Homo sapiens: one gene and its partner. The protein of the gene in region 1 interacts with the protein of each later gene in a biochemical or structural test. Each region holds a gene or a part of one and is shown in the gene's direction. Other genes may lie near its edges.

Region 1 (17,782 bases):
ATGATCCTCATGAAAGAGAAAGAGTATTTTGAATGTCTTCAGTTTGAGTATTTTTTAAATCACTCATATTACTTTATAAGTATATCTTCTGACTTTCAAATTAAGTAAAATAATGTATGGAAGGTATTTTGTGAAGCCCCTCTGTCACTTAGATCTGGTTAAAGGAACACAGCAAATTCGATGAGACCTAGCTTGAAATCCACCATGCAGATAATGTATGGAAGGTATTTTGTGAAGCCCCTCTGTCACTTAGAACTGATTAAAGGAACACAGCAAATTCAAAGAGACCTAGCTTGAAATCCACCGTGCAGATACACGTATTCAAATTTGAGTTAATGTCCCAATTTGAGCTCTAGTGGCCTAGAAAAGAAGTTTTAATTTCCTGCTAACCAAACATTCTTAGATGTCTTTAAGATAGTATAATTTATTGGACAAACCACCAGGTTTATTCATGCAGGCCAGTACTCCATCCTGAGTGAGTGACTGTGGTAGCTTAAAGGATCTCTTTCTGTCTCTATCTGCCTGTCTCATCTCTCTTTGTCTCTCTGTCTCCCTCTGTCTCTATCTCTGTTTTCTCTCTGTCTCTCTCTCTCACTTTTTCTCTCATCAATGATATCAGACCAGTCACCACCTTTCTAGACTTCAGTTTTCTAAACTATAACGTAGATCATCTCTAAGGTAGCCTTTTCACTTCTAATTTCCTATAATTCTAACATCTGCTTGTGTTTTTATTATAAGTGAATTTGGAAAATGAGATTCCAATTCTACAAACTAAAGTAGATTGTCTGCATTAGGCAACTATTTAAGATAAATTTAAAGAGAGAGGTTCCAAACACCACTTCTCATGGCCTCCATAAAATAACATGGGAATTCAACTCCAGCCTTTGAAATTCTTTTCAGATGAGGGTGAAAGTAGGTTCAAGGAAAAACAGCACAGCTCATGAATGCATACATTCAGAAATAGTGCAGAAGAAGCATGTCTCAGGCACCCTGGTATAAAACTTGCCATCAATCACAGAATGTTGTCAGGAGAGGCCTCTGAAATTTACATTGGTAAAAGATCTAAAAGCCAATACAATATATGTTGTTGTCCACACTGGACTTTCAGAAAGGTTAGGGAATGAATAGCAGAGCAAGTCAAACAGAAACACAGGTCCAGAGCCCTGGGGAATGGACAGGCTTCCTAGGAAGGGCCTGTGGCAGTTATAGGACAGACAGGCCAACCCCGGAGATCCAGGGAAATGTGAGGCAGGAAGAGCAGATGTAGAATAAACAGCATTGACTGAGTTCCCAAACTCCAAAGCTGCAGAATATCCCATGCCTTTCTTTTTGTTACATACAACTAAAGGAATCTAAGTAGAACACAAGTTACAAGATTATACAGTAACAACCAGATGACAATTGAAGCAGGCAGAAGGGAAGGATCCACAAAGACATTCTTAAGGGCGGGGACAAGAGTCCAAGCACGTGTCCCAGTGTTGAGCAAACATTCATGTATTCAGTCAGTCAATGAATATTTATTAATATTTATGTCTATGTGTGAAAATGTGCTGGATCTTTGGTTATCGACAGTATTTCACATTGCCCCATAGGGTATTTCTATGGTTTCTGTAGACAGGGGGAAGTCCAGCAGACCTATCCCAGTGTGAAACTAGAGGAGAAATCTGGCAGTTTCTATCCGAGAATTCAATATGGTAGTCACCAGTGAAGTGTGGCAATTGAACCCTTGAAACGCTGCTGGTACAAATTCTGATGGGGTTTAAGTGCAGAACACACACCAGATTGTTTTTAAAAATGTAAAATAGGCCAGGCACAGTGGCTCACACCTGTAATCCCAATGCTTTGGGAGGCCAAGGCAGGCAGATCACGAGGTCAGGATCTCAGACCAGCCTGGCCAACATAGTGAAACCCCGTCTCTACTAAAAATACAAAACTTAGCGTGGCATGTTGGCACGTGCCTGTAATCCCAGCTACTCAGGTGGCCGAGGCAGGAGAATCACTTGAACCTGGGAAGTGGAGGTTGTGGTGAGCCAAGATTGCGCCATTGCACTCCAGCCTGGGCAACAGAGTGAGACTCCATCTCAAAAAAAAAGGCTGGGCACCATGGCTCACGCCTGTAATCCCAGCACGTTGGGAGGCTGAGGCGGGCGGATCACCTGAAGTCAGGAGTTCAAGACCAGCCTGGCCAACATGGAGAAACCCCATCTCTACTCAAAATACAAAATTAGCCGGGCATGGTGGTGCATGCCCGTAATCCCAGCTACTAAGGAGGCTGAGGCAGGAGAATCACTTGAACCCAGGAGGCGGGGGTTGCGGTGAGCAGAAATTGTGCCAGTGCACTCCAGCCTGGGCAACAAGAGCAAAACTCCTTCTCAAAAAAAAAGTAAAATATCTCATTAATAAATTGGATGCTGATTAACAATATTCTATGTGTATTAAGTAAAATGAATTATCAAAGCTTATTTCACCTGTTTCTGTTTCAAAATATGTAGCTATTAGAATAAATTTAATTAAACCTGAGGCTTAAAGTATATATCTTTTGGAAGGCACTGATCCAGTCCAGTGTTTCTCAAACTTTACTGTGCGTACAGTTCACAGAAGAGTTAGGTTAAAGGCAGATCCTACGTCAGTGGGTCCGAGAGGGGCCCAAGATGCTGCGTTTTCAACAAGCTCTCAGGAGACACCCATGGCTCCTACATCTATCACAAGAATAAGATGAAATAGAAGACAAAGGCCTTTCAGTCCATAATTGGGAAAGAGAACACCTGCTGTGTAGTGTATTAAAAGAAAAACAGGAATTGTCCTTTATTACAAATGAATAAGACCACACATCAAAGAAACATTGTTAAGATATTTCTCCTTGCAAAGTTTCTTCCAGCTTGATATCACAAAAGGGTTGGTAACTAACTATGCCATAAAGTTTGTGGGGTTTTTTAGCCTACTTACTTGTTTCATTTCTGATAGGATTTGGACTGTGGTGCAATTTATTTTGTTTCTGGAGTCTAGAGGATTTTGCATTTGCAGCTGAGAGAGAAACAAGTTTTGGAGCCAGAACTCATCGGATTTGTGCGGAGCAGGGCCACTCCACACAAAGGCTCAGAAGATGGTAATGAATGAACAAGACCACTTCTCAGAAAGCAAACAGGCCAGGGTTTGGGGTGAAGGGTGGCAGCAGATCCATGATGAGAGGTAGAAAAGGAGAAACTGTGCCGGAGCTTGGGCTCTTACCTTGAAAGACCCAGGGTTTAGGTATCTGTGTGTGTGTGTGCCTTTGTATTCTGTGTCTGTGTGTTGTATCAGTGAAAGCTCTGAGATATAAACAAAGGAAACCAACAGGCTCCTTTCAGCAGAAAAGGCCATTTATTAACAAGATACTGGCATCTTGCCGAATGCTCAGGAGTGGAAGATGAGGACAGAGGGCTGAGGCCATTTCTAATGTCCAGGCCGCTGAGGGGGTTCCCTCAGAACAGCTCCAGCGCCTCCTCCATTCTTGCACTCACCGGAGAAGCCTTCTCCACCTGCCCAGGCTCTCAGGGTGTGACCTTCCTCTGTGAAGCATCAACATGGAGTAAGTGTCTGCTATTTTCATCCCATGCTGCCCCACATCAGCACACATCCCTAAAAAGCACTTATGCATCTTAACTCAATCCTCTCCTGAACGAGATCATTCCCCCAGTTCTTAGAAAGGAATGGCTTGATTCTCTGTGCTCAGCTCCCAGTCCAGGATTCCTAGCTTGTGCCCACTTCTTCTCTATTCTGCTACAATTCCATGTCAACATGCTTCATACTATAGGCCACTATCACCTTAAAATGACAGGGGAAAGAGAGAAAAGCAGAAAATTAATTCAGTTATATAAAGATGTACATGACCCAGGAAGGAAGATAAATGCAGTTAAATATTCTAAGCCTTTTGTCTACAAGGTGAGCATGAGCATCTTCCTGGCTCTGTCCCAGGCTCTCTGCATCCAGCCGGCTCCTCAGCTGGTCAGAGGTGCTCACCTTGTAGGATGGCGTCTGCAGTGAGAGAGATGAGTTCTCAGTGTTGGAAGCTCTAGTCTTCCTTTGGCTGTTATGACTGAACCTGGCATTATTGAAAGATGCCCCAAGAATCTTCTTTTTGCTTTCAGGTTAGTCATTAGTCCACCAAGATGCCATATTTAAGATGAAAAAATGAGGGGCTTTCAGTTCATGGCCCTGAAGTTAGAGCGGGGCCCTCCCCGTGTAGCGACCCCTGTATTCCTTTGATAATCTGGGTCAATCCCTTTACTGAACACCTAACCCCTATGCAACCTGCTCCCACAGTAGCCTGAGCCTCCAAAAAGAGGAAACCAGGAGTGGAAGGCAACGCTTCTTGCCTTTCTGTTTAGAAACATAACCTGGCCATTCCCCAAACAATCAGATTCCAGTAACTTTATAAGGTGCAGACCCCTATATTTTTGTTGAATTCACTTTCTGATCTCTAGCAGGTCTCTATTTTGTCAAGAAATGTAGCGTGAACACTGGCCCCTGTTCTCCAGGTTCTTGCAGTGTTCTATCATTGCTGTAGTGGGGCCACCCTTATGTCCTCTGGGCAGAGAGAAATTGTATTTTCTGCAAAGATAAAGAATTAATATAACCTAGGATAGGACAGTGAAGATGTGTTGTTGTTCCTAAAATAGGAAGAAATACTAATCTTGGTCTAATCCTTTCATTGGGATAACATCCATTTCCTTGTGGTTGGAGCTATGAGGATTTGCTGGAGTAGAGAAGCTACATTTGGAACTTCGTCCTCTATCAGCTCACCACGGTTCTCCAGAATCCCGTCTTCTGTGCTAGCCCCACCAAAGAATGAAAGACCAGCATGCCTTCCGTTATCACCACTGGCAACTTTACAGCTATCATTTCCCCAGCAATGTCACAGTACTTGTTACATATGTAACAAACCTGCACGTTGTGCACATGTACCCTAAAACTTAAAGTATAATAATAATAAAATTATTATTTCGATTTACTATTTTGATAGTCCATTTATTAGGGATCCAGGGAGGGGATTCTGCTGGCTATTGAAAATATCTTTTTTTTATTATTATACTGTAAGTTTTAGGGTACATGTGCACAACGTGCAGGTTTGTTACATATGTATACATGTGCCATGTTGTTGTGCTGTACCCATTAACTCATCATTTAACATTAGGTATATCTCCTAATGCTATCCCTCCTCCCTCCCCCCACCCCACAACAAGCCCCGGTGTGTGATGTTCCCCTTCCTGTGTCCATGTGTTCTCATTGTTCAATTCCCACCTATGAGTGAGAACATGCGGTGTTTGGTTTTTTGTCCTTGCGATAGTTTTCTGAGAATGATGGTTTCCAGCTTCATCCATGTCCCTACAAAGGACATGAACTCATCATTTTTTATGGCTGCATAGTATTCCATGGTGTATATGTGCCACGTTTTCTTAATCCAGTCTATCATTGTATGTCACTGTGTCTGGAGTGCAGTGACATGATCATAGCTCCCTGCAGCCTTGAACTCTTGGGCTCCAGTGATACACCTATCTCAGCTTCCTGAGTAGCTAGGACTACATGTGGGCACCACTACACCCAGCTTATTGAATATATGGTTTTCATCTCTGCCCATAGGAATTTTGGGGAAATGAAGGGAGGGTTTAAGGCCCCACTGAGCATGCATCACCAGCCTCACTCCCTGTACATCTCTCTCAAGTGGACCACTTGGTATTCTGGGTTCCCAGAAGTTGAGGCAAGCCAAAGTCCAATGAAGCCCATGAGTTAGGGGCATTTCTGTTTTCAAATACAGAATTACTCTGACAAACGGCTGTAGGGCCATCTGGGAAAGGACATTTATGTTCACGATGTTACTGCAAGATCATTCTTTAAAGGCATGTCTTCATTTTAGATATCCTGAGTCTAGAAGCCAACTTATTTCCGAGATTGGGTGAGGATCCTCAAATCTTTATGGTAGGACTCAGGTCCGACACCTGTGCACAGATACCAAATTTCTTCAGTTCCGTAAATCAAGTAGGAACTTTGTAGAACACCCATCTATTTCAGCAAATTATTCCATACGGTCAGGGCTGGCCATTTAATTGGTTTTCTACCATGTATCATGAGCTGACAAATTCCTGTCTTATGAGATGTTTTCTACCAGGAAAGATAACAAAACTGCTGTTTCTCAGAGATTGAGTTGTCTGCATTCTTAGTAAACACATGTGCCTCATTTCGTGTACTTAGTTACAAGTAAATATTCTGACTGAATTAAGCACACAAGTCAGATCTACTAGGATGGTTGAAATCTCAAACTTGGAGATTAGCACATTAGTGATAATATCTAAAAGTATATAGCACAGCTGGTTTTCTCAGGATGCTGCTACAACCACCATAAACCCTACACACTGCCACTCTTTCTCAATTATACTGCACAACCACCATTGCCATAGGAGAATCTTTAAGGAATATGGTTTTCTGTGGGATCAACACACAATTCAAAATCTAAATTGGGCATGTCATAATGGTGAATCGTAGGCCATGTGTCCATGTCTTTGCTGAAAGAGAAGTTGGAAAAATAAATAGCTTGTTATTTTAGTATCTAGAGTGAGAGGCAGTCCCTACCTACTAAGGAGGCTCAAATATTGGGGAGGGTTGGGATGTAGGAAGGAGGTTCCAATGCTGGAAATTCAGAAAGAGTGAAACAATTACTACAGTGTGGACCGGGCTGTACATCTTTCTCCTTTTGTTGAACCCCATCGTCTTCTCTGCCTCCATGTTTTTTTCTAGATTCTCTTTTCTGAATGATTTTCAGCACCAAAACTCTTCTAAATGAGCATGATAATTATTACTGTTTTCTGTACAGTGAAGAAAAATATAATTTTGAATAAAGTAAGTGGCTTTTTTTTTTAACTTCAGGGATGAGACCCATAAGCTAATTATAAAAATAAATAAAAATATTCTTATTGAGAACCTGATTTAGACCAGCACTATTCCTATGTACTCATAAGCTAAAAGGCATAAGTCCCTTTCTTCAAATAGCTTGAATCATTGCAGATACTAACCTGATAGCACAAAGAAATGAAATGCGATATAAAAACCCCAGATGCAAAATAGTTCAGAGACTGAGTCTCAAGGGTGTGCAGGTAATGTGGAAAGTTTTGTTGCAATATGCGTATTTTTGAATTTATTGGGCCACTGAGGGTGAAATGAAAGGTATTTACTTTCACAAAATTGCAGACATTTTATAAAATTATAGACTTTGAGTAGAATAAATACCTTCTATAGATTATCTTAGTTTGCTGGTTATAATAATCTAAACCAGCAGTACCCAACCTTTTTGGCATCAGGGACTGGTTTCATTCATGGAAGACAATTTTTCCACAGAACGTGTCGGGGTGGGGAGGTGTTTCACCTCAGATCATCAGGCATTAGATTTTCATAAGGAGCACACAACCTAGATCCCTCACACACACAGTTCACTATAGGGATCACACTCTCATGAGAGTCTAATGTCGCCACTGACTTGTCGGAGCTCAGGCAATAATGCTCACTTCCCCACCATTCACCTCCTGTGGTGCGGCCCAGTCCCTAAGAGACATGGACTGGGGTTGGGCACCCCTTACCTACATCTTAAATTCTCAATGCTCTTTTAGATCTCAGAATTATATTTCATATTTATATCTATATATTTTGCCAATAAATAACCAGTTCTATAAAATCAGGCCAAGTGATCTGAATACAGATGTTTTCAACTCTACCTGCTCCAGACTCCCCTAATATGGGTTTATACTGAATAGAATGGTCAGCCTGGGATAGCTGCAAAAATAACGCATGAGCTCTGAGGTTCATGGTCTACCCCTTGTGGTCCAGTCATTTCACCGAGATTACACAACCAAATTCTATCTGACCACAACTATTCTTGATACCTCAGCTCTTCTTCATGATATGTCTCCTAAATTTCTTTCTCATTATTCTATTTAGCAAATTAACCACCAACACCTTATTTCTTTTATCTATTTGCTATTGAGTCACTCTATAGATGTTTTGATTAGTTGAAGCTAATTCCCTGTAATGAAAATGGGTTCCCCATCCTTATCATTGATAAATTAATAAACCACCCCCTCTCTGATATATAGCTAACTTGGAAAGTTGTTCCCCAATACAGTGGCGGAGGGCTATGTTAGTGCCTGATTTTGCATAGTGTACACTCTGATATAGTAATATCTGGATTCCAGGTTTTACCAATTTACTACCCAACTATAGCAATTCTATGCTGTTTGCTCCAGACCTAAATTAATCTCAGACTCCCTTTAGATGTCACAGCTCTCCATCACTGGTGCAGACATAATTCTGAAGAAAAGGTCATGAAGTCATCGTCATGCTTTCCATGAAGGTCTAGTTCCCGGCTCCTCACCTGGTGTGCAACATGGCACCTGAAGAAACGTCACGGCTCCTTTTTGTTTCTGGTCTCATGATGAGACCAGAGTCCAGAGAACAGAAAGGAAAGAGATTGAACTTTCTATACTATGAGAGATCAATCTATCGTTTGTTAAAGTGATCAGCATATGTATCCTACAGTTGGAAATACATCCTAGGTTATAACTTGTGTGTATTTCCACACAAAAAATTATATGGGCTTTTTTTCTTTGTACTAAATTGGAGGACATACCCATTAGAAGTGGCAATATGTTCCAATTTCTTTTCTCTTACAAATAAATAAATACATACATAAATAAACAAAATTAATGACATATGTATTTCCTAATACCAAGGGCTTTAACATGTGGAATAAACTAATACATGAAGTACAAAATATATTAGAAATAATTTAAGGAGGCAGGTGACAGATACTTAGAGACAAAACATTTGGTTATACGGTTTAATCGCAAACTACAGATTTTTAATCTAAATGGTCATTTGAGTATTCCCCAGTTCTTCTACATCATAAAGGATTTTATGGTACCTTACTGCAGAGTACTCGATATCATTTTTGAAGAAATCATACTGTATCAAGTGAGCTACAATGTAACTGCAAAATGCAGACTGCAGTGTTGCTCTGCTGTGGCTCTGTGGCTTCATGATTCATTCATTTTTCCTCTTCTCTTGAGCCATTTGAGGGCTGGTATCTCAGCTCTAAAAGTCATGCAGAGAATGGGTGGAAAGAATACAAATGCTTCACTGGAGCCCGATTCAGGCTGGGGCAGTTGTTGTCAACACGATGAGGTTGAATGAAATGCAGTGACAGTGTGGTAAGGGAAGACGTGTTCTTTAATGCTGCTGGGTCCAGGGATGCCTTACCTTAAGGGTAAAACATTAGATACTATGCTTATCAACACAGCAGCCTGTCATTGCAGTGAGTTACACCTACAGCTTAAGGTAACCAAAGCTGTTGAAAGAATATTGTGCCTGCGTGTGTGTGTGCAGGTGCCCCATATCAAATATACATTCTGTTTTCATAGACATGCACAAATGTGTAAGAAAAACATATACATGTATAAATCTGTGATTTAAAATATTGTGTCAGTATTATTTACAGATTTCTTTCTTCTTAATGTAAGGTAAGGTATGTGGGGGTGAATTTTAACTAAGAATTTATTATTAACACAACTATGATAAACTCATAGGGAATGATTACATGAATATGTGTGTATATATGTGTGTGTACATACATATATATTCATTTAATTTGAACTTTATTTTTTTAAGTACATTTGGAATTCCTTGGAAGTAATAATATAATGTATATGTAAACGCCTAAATAATACCCAGGAGGTCACGATTTGACCTAAACACTCGCATTTGCGTGGGAATTTTATTGTGCTCACTTTTTTTTTAGAGGAATGCTTTGTCCTTTACAAAATGGACAAATACTCCCACTGTACTGCAGTTCCAGTTCTATAATCATTTTGGAGGCGCTCTTTACCCCGTGGTGACCACAACACGAAGAACCGTCCTTACCCACATGCTGCTTGCCTGGGGAGCTCAGGATCAGTGTCTTACACACAGAAGGATATATGCTCCCATTTTTTTTCCGCCGACTGTAAATGACTCCTATTCTTTGCTCCACAGAACATCCGATGTGGTGCCCAATCAGCTGAAAAAGCTGCACAGACGTCATTAGTTCCGTGTGTGTGTGTGTGTGTGTGTGTGCAAGAGAGAGAGAGAAAGAGAGAGAGGAGACTGCAGCTGCCTTGCCGCGTGCCGAGTGGAGTCTCCATTAGGGCAGCGCTATTGATTTCTGATTCACACTGCAGCAACAGGGCTAGAGCTCAGAAGAAAAAAAAATCACGTCTCAGAAACAGGAATTACAAAGACAAAAATAAGTAGATAGATAGTTTTATACAAAAATCAAGCATCTGTTACCAAAGGAAAGCAAAACTGACAATTTAGCAAAATTTAAAGACTGTTTATAACATAGAATAAGATGTATAGGAGAAGTAGAGTAAAATGAGTTTAGAAAAATTATTCGTTCTAATTTTTCAACCATTTTTTTGAGAGGTGATAATGGTCTAATTTCCAGAATGCCTTGAAAAACCCTGGAATACTCGGCAGAGGTGCTGCAAAGTAAAGCTTATTTGAGGGCAATCTTGAAGCTATGCCTGAGAATTTTAAACAACAAAATATCCAAGATTTATTTTTTCAATTGTGTTCGATTATTTTATTAGCTAGTAGCTTTCTCTGTTTTAATTCTCTGTGTTGCATAATATCTAGGATACAGTAACAGGCTGGTTGCAAATGCTCGAAACAGAAATAGGTTTCTTCATAGGCTGTGTTTCAGCATGTCCAACTGTGAGCCTGTGAAGCAGAGCATCGGAGTTCTCTCGAGGTCTGTTGCTTCAGATTTGGTTAGAAATTATTGAATCTGGAGTGTAAAAATCTTGTCTGGGCCTTTTAGGCAGCTTGATTTTAAAACTAGCCCTTCTGCCCCAAGACTTATCAACCGCCCCCCCACCCTGTCCCAAAAGAAAAGCTGAAGTAAGTTCAGTGTTAAAATAATGGTGCTGTCAGGCAGGCAGTCTGCATGTGAGCAGCAGAAAATTAGAAGAATAGAACCATCCATTCTCGTTTCCCCCCGCGACATGCACGCACACATACGTGCACACACACACACACACCACACACACACACACAGACAACACCAGTCAGTGAAGGGGGAAAAGGGTGATACCTTTTTAAAAAATGAAAGGCAGTAAGCCATTATTAGCAAGAGCTATATTGAGCATGCTTGCCAGACAAGCAGCAAAGCTGAGCTCCAGTTCCGCCCAGACATGTGCCTTGCCATTTTCATTTTAATCAGCCTGCTCAGGATGGCTGCTGATTCATTTTGCAGGATGTCCCCCTGGGAGCCAAGGTGGAAGCCTGAGGCGAGCTGCTATTGCATCAATGCAGCACATCAGAGCGAGAGCGCGGAGGCAGAGGGAGGAGAGAAAGCCTTCAGCACCGCATCCCGATTTCAATATGGCTAGTTAGAAGGTCCTGCATGAAACCGAGTCTATTGCAGAAAACATAATGAAAGGAAAGGAAAAGAAAAAAGTCACATTGTCATTTCATTATCCAACTATTCTCTCCCCCAACCCCTTCTTGCCACCAACAGACACACACACGTACACATTTTACAGTGACCATGAAAGATTTCAAGCCACTCTGTGGAAGTGTGTGTGTGTGTGTGTGTGTGTGTGTGTGTGTGTACTATTTACCTGGTAACTAGCTGGGGTGGTATACCTGATTTAGCTGGAGACTTTGATTTGTAGGACTGACAACCTTATTATGCAGTGAGTTTATTATTGATATTATTCTGCTCTCGGTTGCCATGGCCACCTTGTGAGAGACATTCAATTTTCTCTCTTCCATCATCATTATCTATGAGGCCATCTGTTGTGGAAAATGAATTCAGCCTCATTTGCATGACTGATAAGCAATTTTTTTTTTTATCTATTTAACAGAAGGTCATATGCCGGGGATTTGGAGCTTGTGAAAAAAAAATGTGGAAAAAAAAAAAAGCCTAGGAGAGGATGAGTGGGAGCGTGTGCATGGGGGTGTGTGGAAGTCAAACAGATCCCTGAGGCCTGCGAGCCTATCGCGCTGCATTTGTCATTCCTGCCCGGGCGACATTTTTTTTTTCCCTAAGCTACTGCACACTAAACAGTGAGAGAGCTTTTCCCTGCAGTCTTGTTGAAGCACCCCGGGTTTTTTGCTCATTGTTGGTGGGTGCATTTTAATTTTTTCATTCCCTGGACTATGGGTTATGATATCCATACTCACTGAAGACAAAAAGCCACCTTTTCTGCGTCTTGGTGGCATGCATGTGTCTCATCATCCTTTCAAACTTGTGGTGGAACAGGGTTTTCTTCCCTGTCTGTGTATTTTGAGCCAGCACAGTTACCAAAATTGAACTTGTCTTTCGCTTGTGAGCGGTTGTGGTCATTGTGAGGTACGTGATGTTCGTTAGGTTAATTTTTCGGGGAACTTAGTGAGCAGGATGTGTTTTACCGTAGCTCAAGGGCTGAGGCTGCTATTCCATTGTCTGCTCCTTTTTAAAGTTATTTTTACAGCATGGCTGGTAGCTGAAATGTTCCTGGACTGGAGGCTTTGTAATCCACAAAAAAATCTGTCTTTAAACTAAAATGGGTATTAGGTTGCATGACTTAACTGTGATGTTGTTTATTAAGAAAAAAAGAAACAAAAACAAAACGGGGTGCATGTATGGTGTTTGGAGGATAAGAGGATACTGAAACAAAAACTTCCCAGAGACTTTACTGGATTACTTTACATTACAAATGAAGCACATCATTTTATGCAAAGGCAATTAAAATGTTAGCTATTTTGGATGAATTTACCTGATGGTAAGAAGAAAGTTGATTTATATTGTTTAAGTGGAGAAACTCAAATAAAGATTTTTAAATTTAACTTAAATGTTTGAAGTTCATAATAATGAAAGAAAATGTTATTTATAACAGAAATATGTCTTTTTGTAACACCTAAATTAATAAACTAAAAGATTAAACTCTACACTTTAGTTTTAAGATAGATCTGAATAAAGCAAAAATATATATGTAAATATTTATATGAAAGTTAGCTATATAAAATATAGAGAACAGATTTTGAATTTAGTATTAACCATGACAATTTCTTGTACCATCAAAGCTATATAAGCTAAATAATTTCTAAGTTACTTAGAGTAAAACTATTTTATATAAGAGCCTTTTTGTTCAAATGTTTATATTTTCTACTAAACAAAATTAACGTCATAGACCAAAGCATCCCAAAACCACCCTTACTGGCATATGAGGGTCTTTCTAATTGTTCATCTTCATTTAGTGTCATGTAGCTTTAAAAATAATAAAGTCATGTCTCCCATACAGATAAAAATGTAATTATTTTTAAAAGAAAAGAGTTTTATAAAATATTCCTTTTCAAAAAAAAAAACAGCATTGCATTCCTATAAGTTTTCACCTCTCAAGAACTTTGAATCCAAAGTGTTGATTGTAAGTTATAAATGCTACTAAGAGAAACATTCCAGAAAAAAAGGAAGTTTGTTTTTTCTGATTGACCTAAAAGAACATGTATGATTCTATCACCTCAAATGCAGTAAGTTAATTGCTTAAAAGTCTCCTTAAAGTTATACTTGAGTGATAAATTTTCTTTATTAACTAACATAGACCACTACTGATGTGTGTGTGTGATGGTACTTTACTTGATTGCACTTTGAAAACTCTTACCATACTATCATACACTTTTCATAAACAATAACAGTTGTTATATAATCCTTCTGCTTTTAATCAGCCATATTTCTTTATATTTTAGCTTGATTTTCAGAGAAATAAGTTTATTTTAAATATTAATTGTGCATTTAAAGAATTTAAAACAATAAAATTCTGATAGATTATGAAGATTATTTAAAGTGACATCAGCTTTCTCAGAGGACTATAAGAATCAGTAATATGAGATCTGGATCTATATTATAATATGAAGGATTATGTTGTTGTCTTTTGATCTGTACATATAGTCTTCAGATTCGTGAATCAAAATTATCAACATCTAAAAAAACCTATGAGATAGCACAGTTGATTTTTCTCTCCTCCCCACCCCCACCCACAAAAAGTTAATTACCAATCTTGGTTGGATTCTTCCTTGCCTCCCTGACATTTGACTGCTGCTAATTCACTGATTAATCTCATTAATGTGATTATAGTAGGATTTAGAGTTGGCTGCCATTGTTCTGTAGACAGTGCTATTCAGGCTGAGCACTTGCCACCTCATTCAGTTTTGCTGTGATTTTTCAAAGGCTGGTGGAGTGAGCTATTGTGAGCAGGCTTCTCTGCCTTCCCTTTCAGCACCAGGAGCTGTCCGCAGCTGATAGCGATTGCATTCAACAGTGACTGACTTCCTCCTAGTTTATTGGCAATGTGAAAATGGCTCACTTTCATCACCTTAATGATTGTGCTAGTTGAGGTAGAAGTAGGAGAAGCCTTCATGGTCACATTTGGATGTTTTGAAGATGGTGGCAGCAAAGATATCTATACTTGAACATTTTTATTTAGTAAAGACTTTCCATCTGCCATTATACACATATTTTACTCTATTTCCAAATATTCAAACATATCAATATGTTAAAAATTACTTGTATATATGTATAGTTGTGGGTTGGAAAATTGTAAACATTATTACTTTTCAACTGGAAAATTTTATCCAAATACATGTAATTATTAATAAAATTCATCTTTGAAAAGATGCACCAGGACTATCTGGTGTCACAGTAAGGTAGAAAGTATGCATGACACACAAATTTCAACTTCTCTTGAGTTAAACTTGCATCCAACAGCAGAACTTATGCCAATTTCACAAATTTGTGTTAGAAGCTGAGATCAAGGTAAAGGCCCAATGATTTGTGACCACATATGAGTGGTGTACAAAAATTATTAAAGGAATATGAGTACCTAGTCTTCTTCGGGGTTATAAAAGCTGTCAAAGCATGACCTTAGGACTATGTGGATAGTTTCAGAGAATGAGACTTCTTTAATATGCTGTTTTCACTGTCCCTGTTATGTTTTTCACCTAATTTATTTATTTATTTTTTACTCTCTTGAAAATGTTTCTATTTTGTACCTTACTCTTGAATATACCCAATTATTTCACTGTCTGATGTTTTCTGTCTGCTTTCTGTGTCAATGTTTAATAGATTAGGGAAAAGAAATAAGTGATTATGCAATTTCAAAGATTTGTAAAGTTTTTCTATTTGTTACAATTATACTTAAAATTAAAAAATTGAGTTAATAATCTGATTATTTGTTCAGCTGCTTTTATAAATACTTTACATTTATAATTTTTAAAAGCCAATTACTTCTCTGTGAAAAATTAATTTTGTCAAGTAAATAATGTTTTCAAAGTCACATGCATAAACTAGATTTCCAACTCTACCTGTAAGCCAATTTAATTTGAGGGAGAGACATTATTTTAGAAATACATAATATACAATCTGAAAGACTTTGTTTACTTGTTATATATTTTAGTGGATACATTTTAACTTCAAACAACTTAAAGGTTTATTTACCCTTAAATATTTTATATTAAAAAAAACTCCTCTGTGGAATTAGAGGGACTAGTCAGATGCTCTTTGATAATGACCACTCTGCTTTGCACTTACAGTTTGGTTTGGCTGGGTGTCCCTTTTAGACCAGGGCTATAATTTTCAATCAATAACCAGTGTTTCCAATGCATGTTGTCCTTTGCCAGGAAGTCTACCTTGATGCAAAGTCTCACCAGAACTCTGTTCAGGAGGCAAATGAATGGTAGACTCAGAAAGAGAGATCTACAGTTTTGGTAAATTTTTATAATCTAATTACTCCATAGCGTAATTTGAGCGCAATGATGTTATGCATTTTCCTATTTCAAGTTTTTAAGAGTTCTTTTTTTGAATATCTTCTTTTTTATTTGAAAAGTTGTGTAGTATTCTTTAGAAAGGAGTAACTGAGGATAAACTTGAACAAAAACTTGCAAATAACATATTTTTCACCAAGCTAAGTTTCATCATACTGTATTCTGTACCACAACACAACACCTGACATTGATCTGCATTTCTTCCAAACAAAACTGAAGACAAAAGATACCACAAACTTGAAGAAGTAAATAGATGTAGGTTTGTGTTTGTGTGTGTGTGGTTGGGGGCAGTGTCATATCTACATATCATGGTTGCTGGTATGAAAAAGATATTTTAAATTGACATACCACCCCAATATTTAAAATATTGCCTATAGTGACCATAACTCATATGAAATAATACAAATATTCTACTTTTATAGTATTTTATTGCATGATTTTTTCTGATATTAGATTATTTAAAGGCAACAGCTATCCATTTTTTCCATCAGTGGGCTATTTCAATGCAATGTGGTTCTGTTTGTAATATCTTTGTGTCTTGTCTCTTCTCTCTCTTTCTCTCCACTTTCCTTTCTCTCTCTTCTGCCCCCTCTCTCTTTAACTTGGTCCCTGTTTGTCTGTTTTGCCACCCTCTCTTCTCTCTGTGTTTCTTTCACACCTGCATTGTTCAAGCATACACAGTGATTTTTCTATGCATGTTTCTACAATGGAAGTGTTTTTGGCTTTGACATCATAATGAGTCCTCAGGGTATCTGTAGAAGTAATCAGAGATGGCAGAGAAAATGTAAGCCAGGTGTTATAAAACTAGAAAGAATGCATGAATGCTTATTTATTAGATAGAGAAAGAGTGATAAGCATTGCTGTATTAGGCTGTTCTGCTAGGAAAATTTTCCTACCATGTACCTCTTTTAAAATAATCTCTGCTCCCCACGTGGTGATTATTGGAAAAGTTGGCGGGGGGGAATATTTTAGTCTTACTGTAAGGAGTATTGTGTTGTGAGAAGATGGAATGGTACAGGACATTCTCTTAAAGCTTTCCTTGCTTTCAGACTGCAGTGGTGTCTAGCAGGGCTCGATGGGAAGGGAATTGCAGCCTCTATAGTAACCAGTAAGTCTGGTCCCAACACATCAGGGAAGAGCTCGGTCTTCAGAGGAATTACCTCTGAGAGCTGGAAGAGGGTGTTCCTGGTAACTTGGGGCTTCTCTGTCAGTCTCCCCACGGAAACCACAGTCAGAGCTGTGCTCTGTGGAAAGCCTGCAGTGGCTGCTCCCTCGTGCTGTTCTGCTCTCGACTCTCACTCACTGTGGATAGTGGGCTGGTGGAGTGCGGGCGCCAGAGGGTAGGGGTGAATGGAATGGAAACACAGAGGGAACTGTGACCAGCACGTGCGATGGTCTCTCCACGGCAGACAGAGCCCTGCGTGGGTGAGAAGCAGACTGCGGAACAGGATTTGGCTTGATGGCCACCAGCTCTTCCACAAAAAGGTACCTCTTTCCTTTTATTGTAAAGGTTACATAGGATTTCTTTTTTTCTTAATTTGCCTGGTGGTTGCAGCTCCCAGTTCTTCTCTTAAGTACTTCAAAAATAGTTGTTTCTCCACCTGCCTGCCTATCTCCAGCTCTCATTTGATTGCATACACAACACTTCCTAAAGTCTCTTGGTTAGGCGTGTGAACGCGCCAACAATGGACCCTCTCTCAAAAGAGCTTCTCCTTCAGTGTAATGCCATTGTGGGCACTGCTATGTCTGCATGCTGCCCGGAGTTGTTGTTAAACATGAGTCTGTGTATTCAAGGCTAGTTTCCTGGGGCGAGGGTGGGAGGTGCTAAAGTAGCCTTTATGATTTAACGTAGCCTTTCATAGCGGTGAGTGTTATAGGAGAGAGGTTTGCAGAGAGTGAAACGGTATGGTCACCACCAGAG
Region 2 (15,050 bases), on another chromosome or scaffold:
CCACCTGTTCAGCATGATAATGCAGCTCCCCTGTGGTAAGGGTTGGTCGGACTACAATATCTTTGTGACTTTGATGAAAGCATCTGCAGTTATAATGTGGCAAAGAAAAGGATAATTCCAGAATTTCCCATTTCCATCATTTGAGCTTGAAATATCTGAATAGATATTTACAAAACCTTGTGAAGAAGTCACCTTATTTCTCATGTTTCTAATGAACATATATAAACTTCTCATTTCCAGCTCTAGGATAAGCAAACAGCAAAAAATTACCAATGAAAAGTTAGGAGTTCAAAAGAAGTAGTCTGAACTAGATAGATTAGATGTCATCCTGTGAAATAGGTTTACCACATGATAGGGAAGAACTTTCAAACAGTACAGGGTCTATTTTCAGTTATTCACTATGAAATGAGAACATTTCACAGTTGTTAAAGGTTGCTTTCAGAAGAAAAGCCCAACTGATGAATGTTTTTAAAAATGCACTATTGAGAGCGAACAACAGACTGGATGCCATAATTTTATAGTCAAGTTTGGGACAAGTTTTAAGAAACTGTGTTACAATTCAGAGAAAAGACAGTTGGTGAGCATATTAAGAGATATAGGGAACAGATTTAGATGATCCAATATGCTTATTATCAGAATTCCAGAAAAAGGCATGAAATCATAAAGAAGACAGAATACCAGGCAAAATTAATGAAAAAATATTAATCCAAACACATATAATAAAAAGTATCAATTTCAAGAATAAAAGAATTATATAAGCATTTAACACACATAAACATTGGTTACCTGTAAAAGGTGAAAAAAAAAAACAGGTTCAGATTTTCTGCTTAAATATCAAAGGGCAAATGGAACATTTTTACGATCACCTAAAATTCTTGAAATAGGCCAAGATTTTTCATATACAAAGGCAACAGCCTTCTTGCCACAACTAAGTTCAGTGTACAAGGGTGCATGGACTCTTCCTGAAAGAAATTACTAGAAATAGGATTCTGTATGATAAGAGATTAATCTACTGAAGATCTTAAGAATGGGAAAGATGTGATATGAAAGAAATGGTGGTAAGCAGTAAACCAGTAAGACTCAGGATGAATGTCAAAATAATTGTAATTTTCTGAAACAACCAGAAAATCTTAATTATTAATAGAAGTTACAAGAAAATGATCTGGACTTAAAAGTCCAGGAGGTTAAGATAGTATAAAAAGTATATATATGCAAACTCTGTTAAAAAAAAAAAGTAAAAGATATGTTCTGCCTTTAAAAAATTGGTGGACCTATTGGCCGGGCATGGCTCATGCCTGTAATCCCAGCACTTTGGGAAGCCAAGGTAGGTGGATCACTTGAGGTTAGGGGTTCGAGACCAGCCTGAGCAACATGGTGAAACCCCGTCTCTATTAAGATACAAAAATTAGCCAGGTGTGGTGGCACATGCCTGTAATCCCAGCTACTTGGGAGGCTCAGGCAGGAGAATCGCTTGAACCCGGGAGGCGGAGGTTGCAGTGAGCCAACATCATACCACTGTACTCCAGCCTGGGCAACAAGAGTGAAAATCCATCTCAAAAAAAAAAAAAATTGGTGGAGAGATATATACTGAAATGTGAGTTGTTTAGAAGTGATGAAGATGTATGTGGTTTTTTTTTTCGCTTGTTTTGATATTTTGTTGTTTTTTTTGTTGTTGTTTTTCTTGCTATGAGCATGTACTGGCCTTGGAACAAGAAGACAAGCCAAACATTAAAAAAAATATGATTTTTAAGGAGATGTTAATAGGTATTGTTACAGGTTATTGGTATTAGTGACCTGATGTGATAAGTGGGGAAGGTCCTATGATATTGGCGGCAGTTGGCCTTGTAATGATGGCTGAAGAATACAGGAGTAAGTGGGTGCTGACAGAGCTGGTGTGCATAAAAGGAGGCCTAGTGGGAGAAGACTGATTCACTTGTTCTGGGTTTGAGCCCTGTAAACTGCTGTAATGAGGCTCTTTGGCTAAGTGGTGGCAGTGGCCAGCTGCAGGAATTGTGTAGGATTGGGAAAATGGGGGTTGCCACCTACAGTGTTTTTGTCGTTGTTGATGTTTATTTCACTCGAGGCCCTTTTTCAGTAAAGTCATCACCTGGCCTTGGTCCTGTGGAACTGGCAGCTGTCATTGCTGGACCAGTGTGCTTCGTCTGCATCTCACTCATGTTGATGGTCTATATCTGCCACAACCGCACTGTCATTCACCATCGAGTGCCAAATGAAGAGGACCCTTCATTAGATCGCCCTTTTATTTCAGAGGGTACTACGTTGAAAGACTTAATTTATGATATGACAACGTCAGGTTCTGGCTCAGGTAACATAATTGTTTCTCCTTTTTCCTAAGACATCTTTTTAAAATTAAGCGATACTTATTTTATTAGTTTTCTAATAAGCCAACTTGCTAGAATGTGAGATAGTATAAATAATATTGCAGGTTTGAACCTAATAAAAATCTTTAAGCTTGATGTATATATGACTGTGGCTGGTTTAAAATAGATTGGAACTTAACTTTAACTGTTAAAGCGAATCAATAAGTCAGCTCCATGGTGGTATAAATTTCAAAGCGTTCTCACTTGTATAATCTAATTTGCTTTTCATCACTGTGAGGTAGAAAGGATAAGAACAATTATTCTCATATAGATGAAGCTGAAGGTCAAAGATATTCACATGATCTGCAGCTAACCCATTCTATTCAGGATTGTTTAGCAGCTTGATGTTTACATTTGAAAACAGGCATGACAGAAATGTATTCAGAATTGTGAAGGTTATTTACTTTTTAAACATTATATGAAATTGTCTTTCGTATAGGCCTGGTTTTTTAAAATTAAACTAATGAACTCTTATGTCATTTTCTCACTTGAGAAAAATGTCTAACCACCTTCTTATTTAATGTAGTTTTGGCCCCTAATGACGTTTTCTTTTCTCAGTTCTATTTGTTGATATTTGTGGCATCAGAAGTAGATGAGCTAATTGTCAGAGTCATCCCAAGGTGGATTTTGGCATAGCAGTGCTTCATGTTTAAACTGAAAGGGGGTTATCTTTTACTTTTTCTTGCATGTGGTTTGGAAAAATATTAAGAGAGGAACACTCCTATCCCCTGTGTTTTTAGAATTTGACACTTGGTGAAGAATAAATAGATCTAGGTTTCAAGGCAAGCTTTGTCATTGATTGGCTGTATAACCTTGGTTAGAACATGTTTCCTCTTTGGGCTTCTGTTTCCTCATCAAAAATATGGAACCCATACTGTTGATAAAAACACTTCAAGTGGTTTGTTAAGACTTTTAAATGAGATGTACTATCCTTTGAAAAGTATGAGTCATCTTCAAATAAGGGCTAAATTCATGAATAAAGTGAAAATTTGTAAAGCGTATATAATGAAAATTTCACTAATTTTGGTGAAAGCCCATCTCTATTAAAAATGCAAAAAAATTAGCCGGGCGTAGTGGCATGCGCCTGTAGTCCCAGCTACTCGGGAGGCCGAGACAGGAGAATCACCTGAACCTGGGGGGTGGAGGTTGCAGTTAGCTGAGATCGCACCACTGCACTCCAGCCTGGGAAACAGACTCCATCTAAAAAAAAAAAAAAAAAAAAATTTTCACTAATTTTATAATTGAGTGATATTAAAGGAATGTTAAAGCAGAAGTTGTGACTGGGTAAGAATATAATTCTGAAGCATAAAATCACATCTAATGTTGCAGAAAGCTCATATAATGACAAATGTCTATTTATTTTAAGGAAATGAATATATATTGGTATGTATGCATATCCATTCATTTAAGAATGAAGAAACTGATTTTATTACCTGAATTATTCTTCTATAGAATTTGGCCATATGTATTCAATAAGAGAGCTCTCTCCTTGACTACTAGGACACACACAGGCTCGCACTGGAGCTCACGTCCCAGAAGGCAAGCTTAGGGATTCCTGAAACAGTTGTGCAAGGAAGACAATGAGAGTTTGGACTTAGATGAAGCAGTCTTAGTACTGAAGGTGTGATAGTCTTTAGGCAGGCCTGGTGGACAGAGGTTATTTTAGAGCTTTCCTGGGACTTCCCATTTATTCTCAGTTCAGATCTTCAAAAAGATTTTGCTCATTCTGGAAGTCATCCTGCTCAAAACTGTGATAATCAAGGACCAGAGTCACAGAAAATCAGGATGGCTACAGATATTTGGAATTAATCCCTCAAACCTGTTCTCTTGTTTCTAAACTTATACTCCGGAAAGACACAGCACTCATGCCACTTGCCACAGTGGAATAAGCCCACCTAACTGATTAAAGGAATTGGTGGGTGGGTGGCAGTTGATTACTGGATAAGAATATCTTCATTAACCTTTTAAGATATAAACATGAGAAACAATGGAATAATTCTGTTTCCATTATATATATATATATATATATATATATATATATATATATATATATATATATTTCTAGATCCATGAGGGACCATAGCTCTCTGTTCTCTGAAAGCTTCTCTCCCTCCTTTGATGCCTTACCCTGCAAAAACTTGTCTGCATTGCTTGCTAGCTCTGTGGCTTTGGGCAGTTAACCAATGTCTCATGCTTGAGTTATTTCATCTTTAAAATGAAAGTGATGGATTCTGTGCACATCATTGGATTGTTGTGAGTTCAAGCAAGACAAAATGTTTGCATGAAAGCACTTGGTAAATTGTAGAGTTATGTCCAAATGACAAGTGTTACTCTTATTGAAAACATACTTGGAGGAAAAATCTAACATACAGTATCAGTTGACCACATTGTACAAAACTTAGTTTAAGGCCTCCTTTGCCTGTCATAGTTCATTGTGTACTGAATTCCCTCCAAACCTATCCAGGCAGAAGCCATCTTCTGGTGAATAATAGCAGAAAATGCCATCTGTTTCCCTTCTATTCATTATAAATCCTTAATGCCACCTTAGGCATGAGACTAGTGCCTGTGAATAAGTAAACTGTGTGTTTGTAATACTCTGTTTTTAGTTCTTTCATTAATTGAGGAAAAGGTATAAGCATTTCACATTCTGAATTCATATGTTTATTACTTAGTACCGTGACCATAATTAAGGAAAGGCCCTGTCTCTACCTCTAAAGACTGTGCTTTTAACTTGGGAACTTCAGGGAATACAATGAAGAGCTGGGTTCTGGCAGCTGTACGCCAAGTGTGTGAGTGTGCACATGTGCATATGTGCCAGCTTTTGTAAGTGAGTCTTCTAGGCCAGTGTTTGTTATGGCGTGTGCAGCTTATGAGCTCTTGTAATATATGCATGTTGTTCGGGTCTTATTTCCTGTTCACTGCATGTAAAGCTGTGGAGTCCCTGTTTCCCTTTTGAAGTTTTCTCTCAAACAGTTCTAAAGGTACAGAAGAGTAGAGCAGAGAATATAGAGATCTAAATTAGGCCTATTCAGTTTTGTCTTTAGAAGAAAATTGTTACTTTTTTTTTTTTTTTTTTTGGAGACGGAGTTTCACTCTGTTGCCCAGGCTGGAGTGCAGTGGTGGGATCTCAGCTCTCTGCAGCCTTCACCTCCCGGGTTCAAGCAATTCTCCTGCCTCAGCCTCCTGAGTAGCTGGGATTACAGGTGTGCACCACCATGCCCAGCTAATTTTTGTATATTTATTAGAGACCAGGTTTCACCATGTTGGCCAGGCTGATCTTGAACTCCTGATCTCTAGTGATCCAACCACGTCGGCCTCCTAAAGTGCTGGGATTAGAGGTGTGAGTCACTGTGCCTGGCCAATTGTTAACTTTTTAAAAATGCTCAACTATTCATGTGAAGTAATCCAATATAGATAATACAGTGGATCAAGATTTGCTTTTTAATTTTAATTGACATCTAGAATCCAGTGATAAAGGGGAAGACAAAACCTTTCCTCGTCCTGTTGGCCTTTCTTGACCATACCATTTACACAAGTCCTGAACCTGTCAGGTGTTTTCAGAATTTGTGTTTGTGATTCCTTTTTCTTTTTTATTACTTGTCTTTGCAATTTCCAGATTAGTCTCCTGAAATTAACTCTTAAGTGTACTTTTAAGTCTGTGGTGTGGCCCTCTACAAGGCTTTCATAAAATGTAATAAATTAGTATCTACACTAAACAACATAATTAGAATTGATTATACATAGTGCGAAAGAGCTCTATGATTTAAATAAGGATTTCTGACAGATCTGTTTCTAACTAGCAGCCTCCTTATAAACACAAACAGTTATTTATAGTTATACTGCTAACTACTTTACAGGAGGTGGGGAGGGTAGAGCAAGAGGAAGAAAGGACCCGTTTGAGAAACTTAAGAAGAAGAGCTTCTGATCGCTTTAAAGATTTAACGTTTGGATTTATAAGCATTTCACATCAGGGAACCAAAGAGAGCAGATAATTTCATTTACTGTCATTGGGTTAATTTGATCTAGTAAGCAGCTTTGAGTATAGATTATAAATGACACCAATTTATATGTACATAGATTGTATAAATAAGATATGAGTGAGGAACATGATGTACACTGGCATTTTCTTTGTTAGTGTCAATGTAATTTAAAATGACACTTACCGGATGGTGGATAGGATATTAAGTGATGGTCTCACATATAGTGCCACTTAAATGTTGCAGGTAAGTTAGTAAACCCTTTTAAATGAAGTAAGTATGGCAATACTTAAAAATACATATTTTGGAGAAAGCCAAGTTCCATTAGTGGAAAAACAGTGCTCCATTACCAAGGTAAGTTACTTAGCCTTGTTCTTCAAGATACTAGTGTTGTCTATGTAGCCAGTTGTCAGCAAGTAAATTGCTTTCCTTGAAATAGTTTCTGTGGTGATTTTTACTGACTTATCAAAAAGCCAGAATTTACTTCTGTGTTTCTGCGTTCACATCCTTTTTTCCTCCCATCAGTGAAACTGTTACGAGATTCATCTTTCTAAAATAAGATTTTAAAATTATCTTGCTTCCAGCCATGGCCCTTTTTCTCAGAAATCTTTAAAGGTTCCTCTTTTACCTAAAGCTCTTCATTGGTTATTTTGAGCTTGGTATTCAGTACTCTTCATCTTCTGGTGACAGCTTACTTTCTCTTTTCACTGCTTTGCCACATATATCCTCTCTCTGATTGCCCAAGCTGCTTCCCTAAAAATGTGTCATTCATTTCCCTCTACCTTTGCCTGCACATTCTTCCTGCCTAACCACCGTACTTAAGGGATAGTCAAAATTCAACTTACTTTTACAAAGCCTACCTTGACCCTCTAGCAGGAGTTTCTGGATTCTTTTATTATATTTATTATCTTATTTTCCTTTTTTAATTAGTTATTTTATTGCAAATATAATATCTCCCCAGTGAGATAAATTCCTAAAGGGATAGCTTAAAGTATCAGTTTTCTGGGTCACTCATTAGTGCCTATCATGATGTTTGAAACATGTAATATTGTTGATTGTGTTGAGTACTATTTATTTTTACCTTTAGGTTTACCATTGCTTGTTCAGAGAACAATTGCGAGAACTATTGTGTTACAAGAAAGCATTGGCAAAGGTCGATTTGGAGAAGTTTGGAGAGGAAAGTGGCGGGGAGAAGAAGTTGCTGTTAAGATATTCTCCTCTAGAGAAGAACGTTCGTGGTTCCGTGAGGCAGAGATTTATCAAACTGTAATGTTACGTCATGAAAACATCCTGGGATTTATAGCAGCAGACAATAAAGGTCTGTAACATTTGCTTTTCCTTATGTTATATATAACAAGATCTCTTTAAGTCTTTACAGATATGGTGACTAACCATCATCAAAGTAGATGAGACATAGATGTCTCTCATGTAGATTAGACCCATTAAGTCGAATACAATATATTAGTAACTTTTAGAACTAGGAACTTCTTCAAGATTTTCTTGACTCTTGATAGCATTCCTAAAATCTCTTAATGTTTTATAAAATATAAAAGAGCTATTTTAAAAAGCCATGTACTTTGTTGGTTTAGTTTAGGGCAGTTAGTTATTGAGAGTACTCATGATATAGAAAAGATATATAAACTTGCTCAAAATTTTGAGAATAGGGCTCAGATAGCTGTTTCCTTTTAATCTCTTCCTGACCAGTAGGATGTTTCAATATGGACTATTGACCTTATTAATGGGGAGAGTAAAAATAACTTGTCAGTGTTCTGAGTTGCCAAGGGCTAAATAGATGAATCTTCTGGCAAACTCAAAGAGATAAATTGTTTCTTCAACCACCCTGGTAACTGTACGGACACTTTTCTGCCTATCATGCTGGTGCCTGAGGCCCAGTGTCAGGTCAGATGCTGAAGAAGGAAGGAAGCCTGTCAGCAGGGAGTCAGAATGAGTGGGGACTGCAAGCAGTGACCTTAGACTGTGCTGCTGCCACTTTCTTAGCTTCCGTTAATACCTTTATGCCCATGATTCCTACTTTTTTTTTTTTTGAGATGGAATCTCGCTCTGTAGCCAGGCTGGAGTACAGTGGTGCAATCTCGGCTCACTGCAGCTTCTGCCTCCTGGGTTCAAGTGGTTCTCCTGCCTCAGCTTCTCGAGTAGCTGGGACTACAGGCGTGCACCACCATGCCCAGCTAATGTTTGTATTTTTAGTAGAGATGGGGTTTCACCATGTTGGCCAGGTTGGCCTCCATCTCTTGACCTCGTGATCCACCCACCTCACCCTCCCAAAGTGCTGGGATTACAGGCATGAGCCACTGTGCCCAGCCCCCACGATTCCTATTTTTACTGCCTCTGTCAGAGACTTGTGTTTCAGCTCCACTCTTGTCATCCCTACCCCTGAATCAAATGTATTTCCCAGCTTTCCTATTTAAAAAAAAAAAAAAATGCTGTCATTATCTCTTAGCTTGGCCAGACCTGTAGTCATCTTTTTCCTTCTCCCACCTTCCATTTACTTCAGCAATATTTATTTATTCAAATATTAACAGTGTTTAACCTCAGTTGGTAATTATGGGTGATTTTTATTATTTTTCTTTTAGCTTCTCTGGGTTTTCAAATTTATTTACAAGCATGTACTGCTTTTTTTTGTTATTGACTTTTATTTGTAGAAAATTTCCAATATGTAGAAAAGCAGAGTAGTTACAGTGATCCCTCATCGTCCAGCTTCAACAGTTGTCAGGTCACTGCCAATCATAATTGATGTCTGATCCCACCTACTCTGCCCTAACTGTGTTATTTGAAGCTGGTCCCAGACAATATGTTTTCATCTGTAAACACTTATAAAATGTAATTTGTATCTTCAAATGATGAGGAAATGTTTTTATGAAACAACCACACTACCATTGTCAGTTTTTTAAATGTTATCAAATATCCAGTTAGGTTCAATTCTATAATTGTCTCCTATTAAAAAAATTATTTATTCAAATTATGATTCTAAGTCCACAAGTTATATTTAGTTGATATTTCTCTTATGTGTCTTAAAATTTAGGTCCCCCCTTCATCTTTTTTCTCCTCTCGCAGCTTATTTGTTGAAGAAATTGGATTGTTTATCCTGAAGGGCCTATCACATTCTGGATTTTGCTGATTGCATTTCCATAGTGTCTCTTAACTTGTTCTTCTATCTTTTCTGAAAACTGGTAGTTAGATTTAGAAGCTAAACCTAATTGGAGTTTTATTGGTTTTCTCAAAATACATACTAAGGATATTATATACATCCTATTGCATCATATGTGGAGGTGTATAGTGTTTGATTAAGACGGGGCAGTGAGGTATATGATGAATGTAGGTAGCGATTATCAGTGGCACCTGACAATGTAATACCTCTTAAGTTAAAAACAAAACAGGCCGGGCACAGTGGCTCACGCCTGTAATCCCAGCACTTTGGGAAGCCAAGGTGGGTGGATCACGAGGTCAAGAGTTCAAGACCAGCCTGGCTGGCCAAGATGATGAAACCCCATCTCTACTAAAAATACAAAAAAATTAGCCAGGCATGATGGCAGGTGCCTATAATCCCAGCTACTTGGGAAGCTAAGGCAGAGAATTGCTTGAACCTGGGAGGTGGAGGTTGCAGTCAGAGCTGAGATCGCACCACTGCACTCCAGCCTGGGCGACACAGGGAGACTCTGTCTCAAAAAAAAAACAACAACAAAACAAAACAAAACAAAAAATAGTAATCAGTCTGACCAAATCCTTAGTTCTCATTTTCGTTTCTGCCTTTATCACCATTTATTTCCTCCCCCAACTCTTAAAACAACCTTTTCTTTATTTACTGTGTTTGATGACCCTAGACTTTCCTTGTTCCTTCTTACTTCTTCATAGTTGTCTTTGTTTTCTCAACTCTTACTCTTCTCACTGGTTCATATGAAGGTACTGATTTTATAAGTGGTAATTTCTTCCTTAAGAACATAGCCACATTCATGGTTTCAAACTCTACCATGTTGGCAACTCTCAAATCTCCATTTGAAAGCTTAAACCTCACCCAGGGTCTGGATTTTGTCACATTCCAAGTTACAAACACAGCAGCACAAAATGTTGGTGAGTCTGTGCCCTGAACTTCTAACCAGGCTGATGCTGTCATCTGGTGGTCACCATGGGAACTAGCTGACCCTACTGGCTCTTCCCTACTCCCCTTCTTTCTTCTTTGTCAGGGGTTAATGTACTTTCTCTGAGCCTAGCCCCTCCACCTCAGTTCCTTTATCTTCTCCTGATTTAGTTAATTCCACCCCCGGCAGCCCTTTATATTTATGGCCCCTTACATATAACCTTCCTTCTATCTTGTCCATAACCTGTGGTTTCCCTTTCTTCCATCTGCCTGTCTTCCACTTTGTTTCTTGTATTTGTGAGCTTTTCAAAATTCAGTAATGGTTAAGAGGCATGCAAATAAGCTAGTGATGTGCCTATATCAAGGAAAAGCAAGGGTGCGAGTTTGGTCAGAATCAGTTTATAAAGTTCATGAAGAACAAATTAATACTAAGTCCTTTTAAATGTACCCAGAAATCTCCTCCAGAATCTTCTGAAAAGTTTCTATTCCTTTCTTAATCTCTTCTAATCAGAGTTGGTTTTCTTCTTCAACCAAATACCTTCAAAATAGAAGCTGTTTCATGTCAATATGGATTTTTTCTTTTGGTTTACAACCAGCAGGGAAAGAAAGAGCACAGTTTATGTACTTCTTACCTAAAGAATCTAGCATTCCGTTTTTTAAATCTTAACAGTCTTACAAAGTAAGACTTTATTCTTGTATAAAAGGAGAAACAGGCTCCTTGTCAGTAACAGGCAGGCCGTGGATTCCAACCAGGTTAGAATGACTCTAAGCGTCCATCTTTTACTGGATTGTGCTGTCTCCTAATGTTGTAATGCTTTTTTTCTTCATGGCTTAATTAAGCATGTGGTTTTCCAGCTACTTCTAGGTTAAATTAGATTGTCGTGGACCAGTCTAGCTTAGGAGCCTAGCTAGTGTCTTTACCATTATTCCTATGAGAAAACATGTTTTAAACTCGTGTTTTGGCTTACAGAGGAAATTTTGGAACCCACGTTCCTCGTTGTTTGAGTTTAGTCCCAGCTTTTCCAGTTTTGCTCCTGACATTTCAGTTCCTATTTCAGCTTCCCCATGTGTTAGAGGTATCACTATTTCTGTTTTTCTAAGCTAGCAACCTTGGAATCATAATCATCTTGTCTTGCGTCTTTGTGAACTGTGTACACAATCTGTCACTAAAGCTTGTCATTTCTTGTTGAAACTCACTTTCAGTTTTGTCCCATACTCTTCCATTCCCACTGTGGCCACACTGGTCTCCGGAGACTTCTCACCTCCTTGCTTCCCTCTCTGTTCCTTCCTTTTTTTTAACCTTCTCTCCTTCCAGGAACAGCCACTGAGCACCCAACCCGACCCAGAGATTTTTCTAGGCACTTAAGAGTGCCAGCTCTGATACCAATTATCTGTGAAGACTCAAAAAAGTCACCATCTTTGTCTCTTAAATGGGATTAATTATACTTGCCTTATCTCAAGAAGAGGGGCTTACTCTGAGGAACTAAAGGATGTGTACATAAAAGTATAAAACAAACAATGTAGAAGAAAATGTGAAGGAAATACAGACTTAAGGTGGCATTATATTGCAGTGTGTGACTCAGGATTGAGAGTAAAAAGTAATAACCATTGAACAAATAAATCATAAATGGTCTGCAGCCCAACCGAAATGTTAATTCTGTTTTACAGACAATGGTACTTGGACTCAGCTCTGGTTGGTGTCAGATTATCATGAGCATGGATCCCTTTTTGATTACTTAAACAGATACACAGTTACTGTGGAAGGAATGATAAAACTTGCTCTGTCCACGGCGAGCGGTCTTGCCCATCTTCACATGGAGATTGTTGGTACCCAAGGTAATTCTATAAGCAGTTCTATTATTTAAGCTTTAAATTTTCATGAATAATGTCTATGAAAATAGAAGGTGGAGGCTGGGCCTGGTGGCTCATGCCTATAATCCCAGCACTTTGGGAGGCTGAGGTGGGCAGATCGCCCGATCTCAGGAGTTCATGGCCAGCCTGGGCAACATGACAAAACCGCATCTCTACCAACATACAAAAAATTAGTCGGGCATGGTGGCATGCACCTGTAGTCCCAGCTACTCAGGGGGCTGAGGTAGGAGGATTACCTGAGCCTGGGAGGTCGAAGCTGCAGTGAGCAGACATCATGCCACTGCACTCCCAGCTGAGTAATAGAGAGAGACCCTGTCTCAGAAAAAAAAACAAAAACAAAAACAGTAGGTGGCCTAACTGGAGATATTTAAAACAAATTTTTTAGATGAGAACATTTTATCTTTCAGTTCAAAATTTCAGGTAGAGCTAGGAATCTGGAAATTTGTTTAGAGATTCTCTAGTCGTTGTAACAAAACTGTGATTTTTTTTGAGTTCTTAAAAGTAGCATTCAATCTTATGATTTTTGAGGATCTCAGTTTCAGAATTCAGGTCCAACTGAATATATTTTTATGTGTAGTATCAAATGAAATGTGAAAGTGCTTTGTAAACATCAACATGCTAGGTAACTGTTATCTGGCCATCTAATAATTATATTTGACCTTGAGATAAGGAGACTGCATGAGATAGTTTTACAGTTGAAAAATTAAATACTAAGTTTTAGTTATGACATTTGTATGCTGTAGTTTTTGTGCATGTGGGATTTCAGATGCCAGTATATCTCTCTGCTCTAGCAGTTGTCCACTTGCAACCCAATGGCTCCCCCACTCCCCACTTTACATACAGCATAAGTGCTAGTTCACATCTTAGCTCCATCTTTGTAGTTATTATTATTATTGATTGTAACAGTTTTATTGAGTTATAATTCACATCATAAAGTTCACCCACTTAAAGTGTAAAATTCAGTGGTTTTTAGAATACTCAGAGTTGTACAGCCAGCAAACACTACAGTCAATTTTAGAATATCTTCACTCCAAAGAGAAACCCTGTAGCCACTAGCAGTCACTCCCCTTTCCTCCCAAACTCCTTAGCCCTAGGCAACAACTGCTCCTTTTTGTCTGTAGATTTGCTTATTCTGCACATTTTATATAAATGAATCATACAATATGTGGTCTTTTGTGACTGGCTTCTTTCACTTAGCATGTTTTCAAGGTTCATTTATGTTGTAGCACGTATGAGTACTTCAGTCATTTTGATGGCTAAGTAATACTTCAGTGTATGGATATGGCATATGTCATATATCCGTTCGTTGATGGACATTTGGTTTGTTTCTTTTGGCCATTGTAGCTAATGCTGCAGTGAACATTTGTGTACAAGTTGTATGTAGTTTCATGTTTTCAGTTATCTTGGGTATATACCTAGGAGTTGAATTACTGTATCATATGATAACTCTATTTAATGGTTTGAAGAACTGCCATACTATTTTCTTAAAGTGCCTGAACCATTTTACATTCCTGCCAGCAGTGTATGAAGGTTCCAGGTTTTCCACATTATAATTATTATTTTTTAATAACATTTTCTAGTGGTTAGCATCAAAGATAATATACTTAATACTGAGTACATTGCAGTTGATAGGGAAGTGATGTTCTACATGCTTGGTTCCTGGGCTGCTGGAATATCAGTCTATGGCTAAGTTTCTTAAAAAGAATTCATAAGGCACCAACAGATAAACTGATAACTTTTTTTTTGCCCCAGTCTTTGAGTTGTTCATCTTTTAAAGCATGTTATTGTCCACATTTTCTTTAAAGAAATATAAATTCAGTGACTTTTGGTGTAGTGATTCACTTGAGTTTAATAATGCCGTAAGTATTGTAGGTCATGTGGGCTGAAATGCTTTGATAATTTGGGTTGGGAGAAGAGACTTTTGAACCTAAAGATGTGAGTTGTGATTGGTATTACCTTTTAAGCAGTCATGTTTAATTTTTGATTCTTTAGGAAAGCCAGCCATTGCTCATAGAGATTTGAAATCAAAGAATATCTTGGTAAAGAAGAATGGAACTTGCTGTATTGCAGACTTAGGACTGGCAGTAAGACATGATTCAGCCACAGATACCATTGATATTGCTCCAAACCACAGAGTGGGAACAAAAAGGTATACTTTTGAACAACTATATTTAATATCTTCTGAAATCACCTTTTTTCCCTTCTCTTTCATATATACATATCATTGCTGAAACTCAGCTTAAACTTGCACTTTATTAGATTGCCAACAGGTAAGAAGATCTCATGGTCTTGCCTGCTCTGAAGCCAGAGTTACCTGACTTAAAAAGATGCCTGCTGATGAAAGGTTGCCCTTCCAGAAAATATCATTAGGCATGTTAATTATAATAACAGTAGTAACTAACGTTTATAGGGCACCTACTATGTGCCAATCGTCTAATAGGTCTTTTACGTATATTACCTCATTTAATCCCTTCTCAAATACTGTGCAGTAGCTAGCCCTGCTATTTTCATATTTCAGTTCCTAAAAATATGCCTTTCTTGCTTTCTTAGAACTTTTGCACATGCTGTCTCCTGGAGCATACTTTACCCTACTGTTTCTCAGCCTCATACCCACCTTTCCCGTAGGAAGTTTTTTCTAGTCCTCAAAAATCTTAGGAGTCCCTGCCAGGGACTGTCATAGCACACTGAACTGGGACCGTTGAGGCACTTATGCGTTATGTTGTA

What was found.
Region 2: the proteins of MYT1L (region 1) and TGFBR1 form a complex in vitro, tested with the Homo sapiens proteins (one study listed by BioGRID).

What each region holds. Positions count from the first base shown.
Region 1 is NC_000002.12:2,325,600-2,343,381, reverse strand, and holds the start of MYT1L (myelin transcription factor 1-like protein), read left to right. Parts: upstream 1-12,106; 5' UTR 12,107-12,415; intron 12,416-16,273; exon of another isoform or gene 16,274-17,782. UniProt on the Homo sapiens protein: Transcription factor that plays a key role in neuronal differentiation by specifically repressing expression of non-neuronal genes during neuron differentiation.
Region 2 is NC_000009.12:99,130,414-99,145,463, forward strand, and holds part of TGFBR1 (TGF-beta receptor type-1 isoform 1 precursor), read left to right. Parts: intron 1-2,083; coding exon of another isoform or gene 2,084-2,095; coding exon 2,096-2,326; intron 2,327-7,445; coding exon 7,446-7,676; intron 7,677-12,122; coding exon 12,123-12,290; intron 12,291-14,318; coding exon 14,319-14,475; intron 14,476-15,050. UniProt on the Homo sapiens protein: Transmembrane serine/threonine kinase forming with the TGF-beta type II serine/threonine kinase receptor, TGFBR2, the non-promiscuous receptor for the TGF-beta cytokines TGFB1, TGFB2 and TGFB3.